Homo sapiens: one gene and its partners. The protein of the gene in region 2 purifies or fractionates together with the protein of the main gene of each other region. This does not show direct contact. Each region holds a gene or a part of one and is shown on either strand. Other genes may lie near its edges. The genes, in order: TUBGCP2, TMEM126A and IPO7.

Evidence for each region.
Region 1: the proteins of TMEM126A (region 2) and TUBGCP2 purify together in Homo sapiens (affinity purification with mass spectrometry; one large-scale study listed by BioGRID and IntAct). This does not show direct contact.
Region 3: the proteins of TMEM126A (region 2) and IPO7 purify together in Homo sapiens (affinity purification with mass spectrometry; one large-scale study listed by BioGRID and IntAct). This does not show direct contact.

What each region holds. Positions count from the first base shown.
Region 1 is NC_000010.11:133,302,327-133,305,982, forward strand, and holds part of TUBGCP2 (gamma-tubulin complex component 2), read right to left. Parts: intron 655-3,656; 5' UTR 616-654; coding exon 466-615; intron 1-465. UniProt on the Homo sapiens protein: Component of the gamma-tubulin ring complex (gTuRC) which mediates microtubule nucleation.
Region 2 is NC_000011.10:85,653,880-85,657,073, reverse strand, and holds the end of TMEM126A (transmembrane protein 126A), read right to left. Parts: intron 3,012-3,194; coding exon 2,818-3,011; intron 1,481-2,817; coding exon 1,366-1,480; intron 766-1,365; coding exon 573-765; 3' UTR 532-572; downstream 1-531. UniProt on the Homo sapiens protein: Protein required for the cotranslational protein quality control in the inner membrane of the mitochondria.
Region 3 is NC_000011.10:9,426,082-9,429,737, reverse strand, and holds part of IPO7 (importin-7), read right to left. Parts: intron 1,199-3,656; coding exon 1,109-1,198; intron 973-1,108; exon of another isoform or gene 784-972; intron 708-783; coding exon 542-707; intron 65-541; coding exon 1-64. UniProt on the Homo sapiens protein: Functions in nuclear protein import, either by acting as autonomous nuclear transport receptor or as an adapter-like protein in association with the importin-beta subunit KPNB1.

The DNA of each region.
Region 1 (3,656 bases), on a different chromosome or scaffold from region 2:
CATCCTGACCCCGGGGTGGCGCTCACCCTGCACCCCGCACAGCCCTGCACCAGAGGTGGCGCTCACCCTGCACCCTGCACCAGAGGTGGCGCTCACCCTGCACCCTGCACCAGAGGTGGCGCTCACCCTGCCCCCTGCACCAGAGGTGGCGCTCACCCTGCACCCTGACCCAGGGGCGGTGCTCATCATGCACCCTGACCCAGGGACGACGCTCATCCTGCACATGGACTGAGGGGTGGGTTCACCCTGCACCATCCTGATCCAGGAACAGTGTTCATCCTGCACCCTGACCCAGGGGTGGGCTCACCCTGCACCCTCACCCAGGAATGGTGCTCACCCTGTACCACCCTGACCCAGGAACGGCGCTCACCCTGCACCCTGACCCAGGGGTGGGCTCACCCTGCACCACCCTGACCCAGGAACAGTGCTCACCCTGCACAGCGCTACACCAAGGGCAGTGCTCACCTTGGCACTGTGAGCAGAGACAGTGGTAGTGACGTACGGGGTCCTGTTCTTTTGAAGCAGGTCAATGTAGACCTCAGCCCCATCTCCTCCGTGGACACGCAGCAGGCTAAGCAGTTCATTGACGTCATGGTGAATCCGAAATTCACTCATAGTTTTAGCTCTGAGGCACGAACATCACAATATGTTCTCCTATAGGTAAGAAGACAGCTATTCATAAAATTCAAACTGTAGAAATAAAAAACATTTTTTTAAACACTCAAGACTGGCCAATGTCAGGCTTTGACAAACCAAGTTATCACCTGGCCTGCCTGGCCTAGGGCCCCTCCCCCAACAGCCCAGCAGCCTCTCAGAGGGTCCTCTGCATGGGCCTGGGATTAGGGCCCCTGCCCAACACCCCAGCAGCCTCTCAGAGGGTCCTCTGGACGGGACTGGGATTAGGGCCCCTCCCTGAACTCCAGCAGCCTCTCAGAGGGTCCTCTGCATGGGCCTGGGATTAGGGCCCCTCCCCGACACCCCAGCAGCCTCTCAGAGGGTCCTCTGGGTGGGCCTGGGATTCACCTGCCTCCAGCTTCCAGGCGGCCTCCGCAGCTCCGGGAGCCAGCCCCGTGGGCAGCATGAATGGGGCCTGAGACCCAGGTTCCCTTTCCCCTGCACCTCCCTCCACACATGGGTCTGGGCCAGCAGGGAATGCTCTGCTGCTCGCCTCGGCTTGGGGACAGAGCTTTCTGGTCCCAGACGTGAGGCCTGTGGGGTCTACACAGGGAGCTCTGTGCAGGCCCAAGCCATTGACACTGTGCCAGCTACCGGCACACACAGTAACATCCCAGCTTCTACCGGAGAGGCCCACACTGGTTCTCAGAGCCCGCGGTGCTCAGCCGCAGCTCCATTCACTTGGCCGGCTCTGCGTTACTTTTTCACTCTGGTACCCGTGACATCTCCTTTTCTTGCCCAAGCGTGGCTACCGACAGAGACGCTTCTGGTAGGACTTCTACACGTTCCCTACACGTTTGAGCTAGGTGAAGTTCCACTGCAGCTCCAGCTGCCCCAGGGGCTCACCAGGAGACATATAACACATATGAGATCGAAGGCGTCACAGACACCCAAGTGGGCAGCAGAACACTGCGTGGGGTCAGGGTGTAGGGTGAGCCCACCCCTGGGTCAGGGGGCAGGGTGAGCGCCGCCCCTACTCTCCCACCAGTGGCTGCTCATTAGCCTCTGTCACCAAGAGTTCCGATACAAGGCCATTAAGACAAACACATGGCTGTGTGCAGTGGCTCTCGCCTGGAATCCCAGCATTTTGGGAGGCTGAGTCAGGTGAGTCACTCGAGGCCAGGAGTCAAGACAGCCTGGGCAACACAGTGAGACTCTGTCTCTACAAAAAATACAAAAATTAACTGGGCATGGTAGCATATGCCTGTAGTCTTAGCTACTCGGGAGGCTGAGGTGGGAGGATCGCTTGAGCCACTCCAGCCTGGGCGACAGAGGGAGACCCTGTCTCAACAAAAAACAAAACAAAACAAAAAACACAGGCAAGGCAACTGGCTATAGATTACAAAACAAATATAAGCAAACTTTACATGCTTCACAAACATTTCATCTACACAAGGGTTCTTAAGCCGGTATCCATGAGTAATCAGTAACAGATGAGCCCTTGAAAGTTATGGGCAAAATAACTTTTTATTTTCTGAGGAGATGACCCTTCAACAAATTCTCAAAGGCTCTATGACCCAAAAAAGGTAAACAACCACTCTGCTGACAGCTTCAGGGAGACAAGGATGAGCTCAACAAAACATCGAGTGTGGGCGGCAAGCCACCCAGGTGCCGAGGCAAGAGACCGAGGGCACGAGCTGTTCCAGTGTAACAAAATATATAAAACAACAAGAGTTATGCTAGATCTAGATCATAGATATGATTATATATGAATATCATTAATCATCAGTTTGTAGCAATTACTCTTTATTCCAATATTATAATAATCCTTGCTCTACAATCATAACCTAGGAAAAACCAGGCCATACAGAGATAGGAGCTGAGGGGACATAGTGAGAAGTGACCAGAAGACAAGAATGTGAGCCTTCTGTCATGCCCGGACAGGGCCACCAGAGGGCTCCTTGGTCTAGCGGTGATGCCAGCGTCTGGGAAGATGCCCCTTGCCAAGCGGACCTTGGTCTAGCGGTAGTGTCAGTGTCAAGGAAAAACACCCGCTACTTAGCAGACCGGGAAAGGGAGTCTCCCTTTCCCCGGAGAGTTTAGAGAAGACTCTACGCCTCCAACTCTTGTGGAGGGCCTGACATCAGTCAGGCCCGCCCGCAGTTATCCGGAGGCCTGACTGTCTCCCTGTGATGCTGTGCTTCAGCGGTCACACTCCTGGTCTGCTCTCATGTTCCATCCCGTACACCTGGCTCCGCCCTCTAGATAGCAGTAGCAAAATTAGTGAAAGTATTAAAGTCTTTGATCTTTCTGAAAAGAACATAGAAGAAATAATGACATAAGCTGTCCTCTCTCTCTCCGCCTCGGCTACGTAACAGGGAAGGGCCCCATGTCTGGTGGACACATGACACACATGACCTTATCAATCATTGGAGATGACTCACACTCTTTACCCTGCCCCTTTTGCTTTGTATCCAATAAATAACAGCGCAGCCAGGCATTCGGGGCCACTACCGGTCTCTGCGTCTTGGTGGTAGTGGTTCCCCGGGCCCGCTGTCTTTTCTTTTATCTCTTTGTCTTGCGTCTTTATTTTTACAATCTCTCATCTCCGCACACGAGGAGAAAAACCCACCGACCCTGTGGGGCTGGTCCCTACAATAGAGTACAGAAGACTCAGCACATACTCCCACAATATGCTAATTCACTAACGATTATTAGCACGGGACTCGACACCGAGATTCTAATCCTGTGTGATGGAAGACAGTTTATCTGTAGATGAACATCAAATACTGGTCACAGGCAGGGTATCTCCGAAAATGGAAGGAGAGCGATAAGAAGGCATGGTGCTGAGTTGCTCACACACATGCTTTTGACCCAGGAGGTGCTCACGGTAACTACAGTTCAAGCACAAGGCCAGCAGGGCACGCGCCATGGAGCCCCATGCAGTCTGGACACTGACGTGGCTACTTCTAGGCTGTGGGACCCTGAACAAGGACACGTCCTCTCCAAGCTTCTTCTGAAAAGGGGAAGCCCTAGGTCCT
Region 2 (3,194 bases):
GCCACAATAAATGGAAGCTTGAAAGACTACCTAAACTAAAAATACAGCTTTCTAAATAAGGTGACTCGAAGTAGGTAGGTCTATATCATAATAGCTGAAGCTGAGCCTGAATGACTCAAGAAGATGATTGATTTGAGGAAGGTTGTTAAATCAGTTCTAAGAATCTATGGATTAATAATTTGAATTGAGAAAGTGAATTGTGAGTAACATTTGGTATAGTATATTGATAGATATTTTTTCATTTTTTATTCCTGTTTGTCATTATGAAGTCTTCAGTGTAAAATACTATATAGTTACTTTTTCCTCTTGTGTTACAGACCAAACTCAACGCCTAAGGTAGAACAAGCAAGGTAGAAGAGACAATACTGGGCAAACTCGTGAAGTTAAACTTGTTTAAGTGGGTAGCTTTTACTTAGATTCAGCCTTTTGTTGCCCTGTGTAGCCTTTTGTTGTAGGTCCCAGAATTATACCTCGTGATAAATTACAAGTCTATGTTTATGCATAACATTAGACATAACATTAGACATAAACTGTTTTTACCATTTTATTTTTGTTTACATATTTGTTTAAAATCAGTGAATTTCTTTGCCAGGTTCAGATAACTGAAGGGCCTTTATAAGTAGTTTATATTGTTCAGACCCAAGGTATGCTGAAAACATAGTCTGGAGCAAAATAGGAAATAACATCTTTCTAAAGACAGGCTTAGAAGTTCTAATCCAGTAACTTAAGATGTTCCCTTTGTGTGGTAACAGAGCTGATTGATACCTGTAAGAAAACATTGAGATAGTTCAATAGAAAAGATTGTTGCATCAAATGGCAAACCCATCTGTGATACATATTAGTCCTAGAAGTCTTAAGATAAAACTGAATATTAAAGTAAAGGTCTTCAGTGTCTATTAATCCTAAAAACTTTTGTTTCTTTATCCAGTTTGCTTCAAGGCTATAGCATAGATTGCTGATGCAAGAGTTCAACAGAGAATAGCCAGAATTATTTTAGAATAGAAGGCTAATATAACAGCTAGACATTTTCTGATGGAATTTTCCTTTAGTGCAAGTGTTCAAACTCATCCAAGATAATTGTTTATATGATAGAAGTTTCATGCATAATACTGTTTGCAGCTTTGTAGTTAGTTTAGTATTCAGTACACAAATTAAGGTTAATAGCCTAACTACACACCAAGTATAACTGTTTGAAATTCTTGATAAGTAGAATTTCATTATAAGAAAAAACAGGTCTTGCTAACTTCTAATCAAGAGGGTAACATTGCCTTTGGTCTAAATGCCTTAAAAACAAAATATATTTGCTGCTTTAAGTTGTGAGTTTTATAGGTAATCACATATTATAAAAAGTTTTTTATTTCCTACCTGGCTGCTAGACCACCATTTACAGGTATAGCCAAGAAAACAGGGTATAGACCACCAATAACAAGACCAGTCAGTCCACTCCGTGTTATGGTACAGGTTTCACAATCCAAATCACCTAGGAAATAAATTAGTCATAGAAATGAAGGTCATGATAGTCAAGCAAACATGATTTAAAGAATGTAAGATCCTCTTTTGTGTATCACAGGTATTTTTCAGGTAATATATCAAATGTAATTGTACAAAGCCTGTTAAAAGGTATAATTACATCTATGAGTAACTTAAAATAGCTAGGAATAATTGGTAAAACTATTTTAGGAAAAAAAGTTCTCTAATTTGTTCTCAACTTAGATATAATAATCTCATGGTTTGGGCTACTGCTAGCTTTCTGCCTTGTTTTTTATCAACAGACCTAGGCTAATATTTTCACTCAGTCTGTTCAATTAAATGGGCGATAGGTCTTCCTTGATCATAGAAATTGTTTCCACTGGTCATGGGAATTAAAACAAAATACTCGTCAAATTTAAACAAATTTGGAGCAGCACTTAACAAAATTTAGATGGACTGCCTTCCCTAGCACCCATGGTAATATTTTTATTTGAAATAATTAATCAAAAGTTTTTTTTATGATTAACTGTACTCAAAGTATTCAGCACACATGGTAGATTTTCAAAAGGAAATCAAATCTCCATGTATTTGATAAATGTATATGCATTTAGTGCTTTAAGAGATTTACTGTATAAAGAGTTATTCCCATAAAAATATTTTCCCCCTTTAAGGAACTTCTCTATAAAATATAAATAAAAAATCTAAGGTAGCCAACATATTATTTATATACATTTGTATATATATAATATTTCCATATATATAATTTTCATATATATGTATATATGGATTTCCAAATATTTCTTACTCTAAATGAGCACTGTGAGAAAGATATGTTAGAAAAAGGGAAGTATTGCCGGGTGCAGTGGCTCACGCCTGTAATCCCAGCACTTTGAGAAGACAAGGCGGGTGGATCACCTGAGGTCAGGAGTTTGAGACCAGCCTGGCCAACATGGTGAAACCCTGTCTCTACTAAAAATACAAAAAATTAGCCGGGCATGGTGGTGGGCACCTGTAATCCCAGCTACTCAGGAGGCTGAGGCAGGAGAATTGCTTGAACCCAGAAGGTGGAGGTTGCAGTGAGCCAAGATTGCGCCAGGGCACTCCAACCTGGGCAACAAGAGCAAAACTCCATCTCAATTAAAGAAAAAGTATTTAGAACTGCTGTGTATGTGCATCTTGGTTGGTAGACCATACTAATATGAATTATTTGCCACATTATATAGGCTAGCAAGATTTAATCTTAACTGCATTACAGCATACAGCTACTTGATATTAATAAGTATGGACTAAAGCTGCAAATAACATATACTAAGGCAAACTCTTTGGTGATAGTGAAGTAGAATTTACCTGTATTCAAAGGAAAACTTACAAAACATCTGTAAGTTAAGTCTGTTGTAAGAAAAGGTATCCCTGCCATTGGTAAGCCAGCAGCTATGCGAGCCTTTGTCACATTCAAGATGCGTCGAAAAAGACTGTTTGCTATGAGGCCACAAAGAGCAGCATTTAATCCAACATAAACCGATCCATTTTCAAGTAGATTCCTGAAAGGGTGAGAAGAAAGAACTTTTCTTTGGCATTATTGTGTGTGTGAGCTTTCCCGATCTTGACATGTGTTATAGGACTTTGGGAATACACTAACTGGATACGACATCTATCCCTTATAGAACCAAAATCTTAAAAATTGCTTTATATATAGGTTTTTGCTCTTCTCCCAGCAGCCAGTG
Region 3 (3,656 bases), about 76 Mb from region 2:
TCTCTTATAATGTGAAGAAGAGCCTGCATTACAGGTCTGATGAATGGTGTGATATATTCTTTAGCTGTAAGAGAAAGAGTAAAAAACTTGCGTAAAACCCCTAAAACTTCTTAAAACCTGATATAACAAATATCGATGAGTTTTTTAAAAAAGTACTTTCACATAAAAAGGAAGTATGCCAAGTTTCTAGGATTATGGCTTTTTACAATTAATATATATATATATATTTTATAAGAGGCAGGGTTTTGATCTGTTGCCCAGGCTGGAGGGTAGTGGCAATCGTAGCACACTGCAGCCTCGAACCGTCGGGCTCTAGTGATCCTGCTGCCTCAGACTCCCAAGTAGCTGGCACTACAGGTACATGCCACTATGTCCAGTTAATTTTTAAAAATTTTTTTTGTAGAGATGTTGCCCAGGCTGGTCTTGAACACCTGGCTTCAAGCGCTCTTCCCACCTAAGCCTACCGAAGTGCTAAGATTACAGGTGTGACCTACCGCACCTGGCCAACATTCACTTTTCTTGACATACAAAAATCCTTTACCTTTTTCTTGATTGCTGATCAATACTTGAAGGGCAATGGCAGCTTCCACTTTCACAGGCATTTCTCTATCATCAATCAGACATCTTCTTGTTAGCTCTAAGGCTGTTTGAAGGTTCTGATCACTTTTGAACTTCACTTCACAAAAATAGTGAAGTACCCAGCAAGCCTTTTGTAAAAACACAGTGAGTTACTGTAGATACCTTACCTTAAATTCCCCCAAGCTAATCTCTATTCCCTGAGTTCTGTGTGTGGGAATTTGGAGGCTGGCCAGTGGTAGATGTGTCCAGAGACAACACTAGACCAGTACTATGATCCCAAGTTACTCTTTGGCCGCATGATGTTTGTGTGGATAGCAAGATCTGAATGAAAAACACAGACAGACACTGCTACCAGACACAGATGAAACCTATGCACACATTACAGCAGCCATGTAAAGATTTACATTAAACAGAAACCTAAAATAAGACACAGGCTTCAAAGTGAACATTTAAAAGTTTCAATATAAAAGTCCACAGAGTCATTCATTACAAGACAAAAGTATATAAATAATGCAGCTTTAAAACATACCCTTGCTCTCATGTAGCCTAGTTCACTGCTGAAGAGAGGGAATACATGATTCTGCAACATGTATTCCATCTGATCTTTATAGATCTTTTTCTGTAAATATAAACAACAGTTATTTTGATACAGTTCCAAATATAATCATCTCAATTTCCAAACAGATATAACACTATTAAAAATGACTATTAATGTTACATATATTTATTCTCATTCTTTGAACCCCAGAATCCACAACCAATTTTCGTATTCCAGAACTTCACCACCAAAAACCACTAAACACATTTTCACGTTTTTATATTCCTTGATTAGAAAGCCATTATGCCAAATCTTACCAGCAATAGTGTTCGAATGATGTAAGTTTGGTTAATTTTATCTGTTACTATGAAACTTTTATAAGGAAAAAACTTGTCTGATAAAGTTTCTGGCTGAAAATAACATAACCTGAGAAAAATCCTGCTTTCAAACGAATAAACTGGCTATCTAAAAAGGCACACTCTTTTTTTTTTCTTTTTTTTTGAGACGGAGTCTTGCTGTGTTGCCCAGGCTGGAGTGCAGTGGCACAATTTCGGCTCACTGCAATGTCCACCTCCCAGATTCAAGTGATTCTCTAAAAAGGCACTCTCAGTATTCAAAGTGAGTATTTTCTAAGTGGAAAGAAGCTTTTTAGAAGAGTTCCTTAAACTGCACATTAAATCAACATTAAAAACATAAGACACTTATATATCAACACTTACATAATCAGACATGACAACTTAATGCAATGTGAGACCCTAGACTGGGTCATGGAACAGAAAAAAGGACATAGTGGGAAATCTTGTGAAACTTTAAAAAGGTCCATGGATTAGTTGATAGTAGCATACCAAAATCAACTTCATGTTTTTGATAACTTTGCCTACCTATGTAAGGTATTACCACTAAGTGAAGCTGAGTGAAAGGTAAGAATAGATAAACTTGAATTTGCCAAGAGAACTCACTAATTCTCAGCCTTCTATGCCACAAATGATTAGAATGTCTTTAATACATACTTTATAAACAAAGAGAAGGATGGGTGAACAGGTATAGAAAAGATGAAAGACGGCCGGGTGCAGTGATTCACGCCTGTAATCCCAGCATTTTGGGAAGCCGAGGCGGGTGGATCACCTGAGGTCAGGAGTTCGAGACCAGCCAGGCCAACATGGTGAAACCCCATCTCTACTGAAAATACAAAAATTAGCTGGTGTGGTGGCAGGTGTCTGCAGTCCCAGCTACTCGGGAGGCTGAGGCAGGAGAATCGCTTGAACTCAGGAGGTGGAGGTTGTAGTAAGCAGAGATCACGCCACTGCACTCCAACCTGTATAACAGAACGAGGCTCCATTTCCAAAAAACGAAAAGATAAAAGACACAATGACTAAATATTCTGTGAGTACTTAGTGCCTGGCTTTAGAATGTAAAGATTTCTAACAACTCAATTATAAAAAGACAAATAACCCAATTAAAAATGGGCAAGGGCCAGGCACAGTGGCTCACGCCTGTAATCCTGGCACTTTGGGAGGCTGAGGCAGGCGGATCACCTGAAGCCAGGAGTTTGAGACCAGCCTGGCCAACATGGCAAAACCCCATCTCTACTAAAAATACAAAAATTAGGCTGGGGGCAGGCACCTGAGGCATGAGAATCACTTGAACCCGGAAGGTAGAGGTTGCAGTGAGTCGAGATTGCGCCACTGCACTCCAGCATATGGCGGGGGGGCGGGGAGGCGGAAATCTCAGCTACTTGGGAGGCTGAGGCAGGAGAATCACTTTAATGTGGGAGACTGGTGGCTGCAGCGAGCCAAGATCTCACCACTGCACTCCAGCCTGGGTGACAGAGCAAGACTCCATCTCAAAAAATAAAAAGAAAAAAAACAAAGGCAAGCAATTTTTTTGGGGCAAGGAATTTGAATAGATATTCTCTAAAGAAAATATACAAACGGATAGTAAGCACATGAAAAATTTCAAAGCCACAAAGACATAATGCTTCACGTTCACTAGGATGGCTATAATCAAAATATACTGCTGGCAGAAATATAAAATGGTATAGCTACGTTGGAAAATGGGTTCTGCGGTGTCTCAAATTATGACAAGCAATTCATACTCCTAGGTATATACCCATGAAAAATGAAAACGTATGTCCACATAAAAATTTAAACATGAATGTTCACAGCAACATTTGTAAGCAGCCAGAAAGTAGAAACAACTAATGAATGAGTAAATAAAATGTGGTATATTAATATAATGAAATATAATTTGGCAACAAAAAGGAAAAAGTACTGAAACCTGCTATAACACAGATAATCCTTGAAAACATTACACTAAATGAAAGAAGTCACCCACAAAGAGCTACGTATTATATGATTCCATTTATATAAAATGTCCACAATAAACAAATCCATAGAAAAAATGTGGACTATAGGTAGCCTAGGGTTGGGAGATTTGGGGTGATATGTGGAGTGACTGCTAATGTATACAGAGTTCCTTCTGGGGGTGATAGTTATACAACTGTGAATAAACTAAAAACCACTGAGTTGTACACTCCATA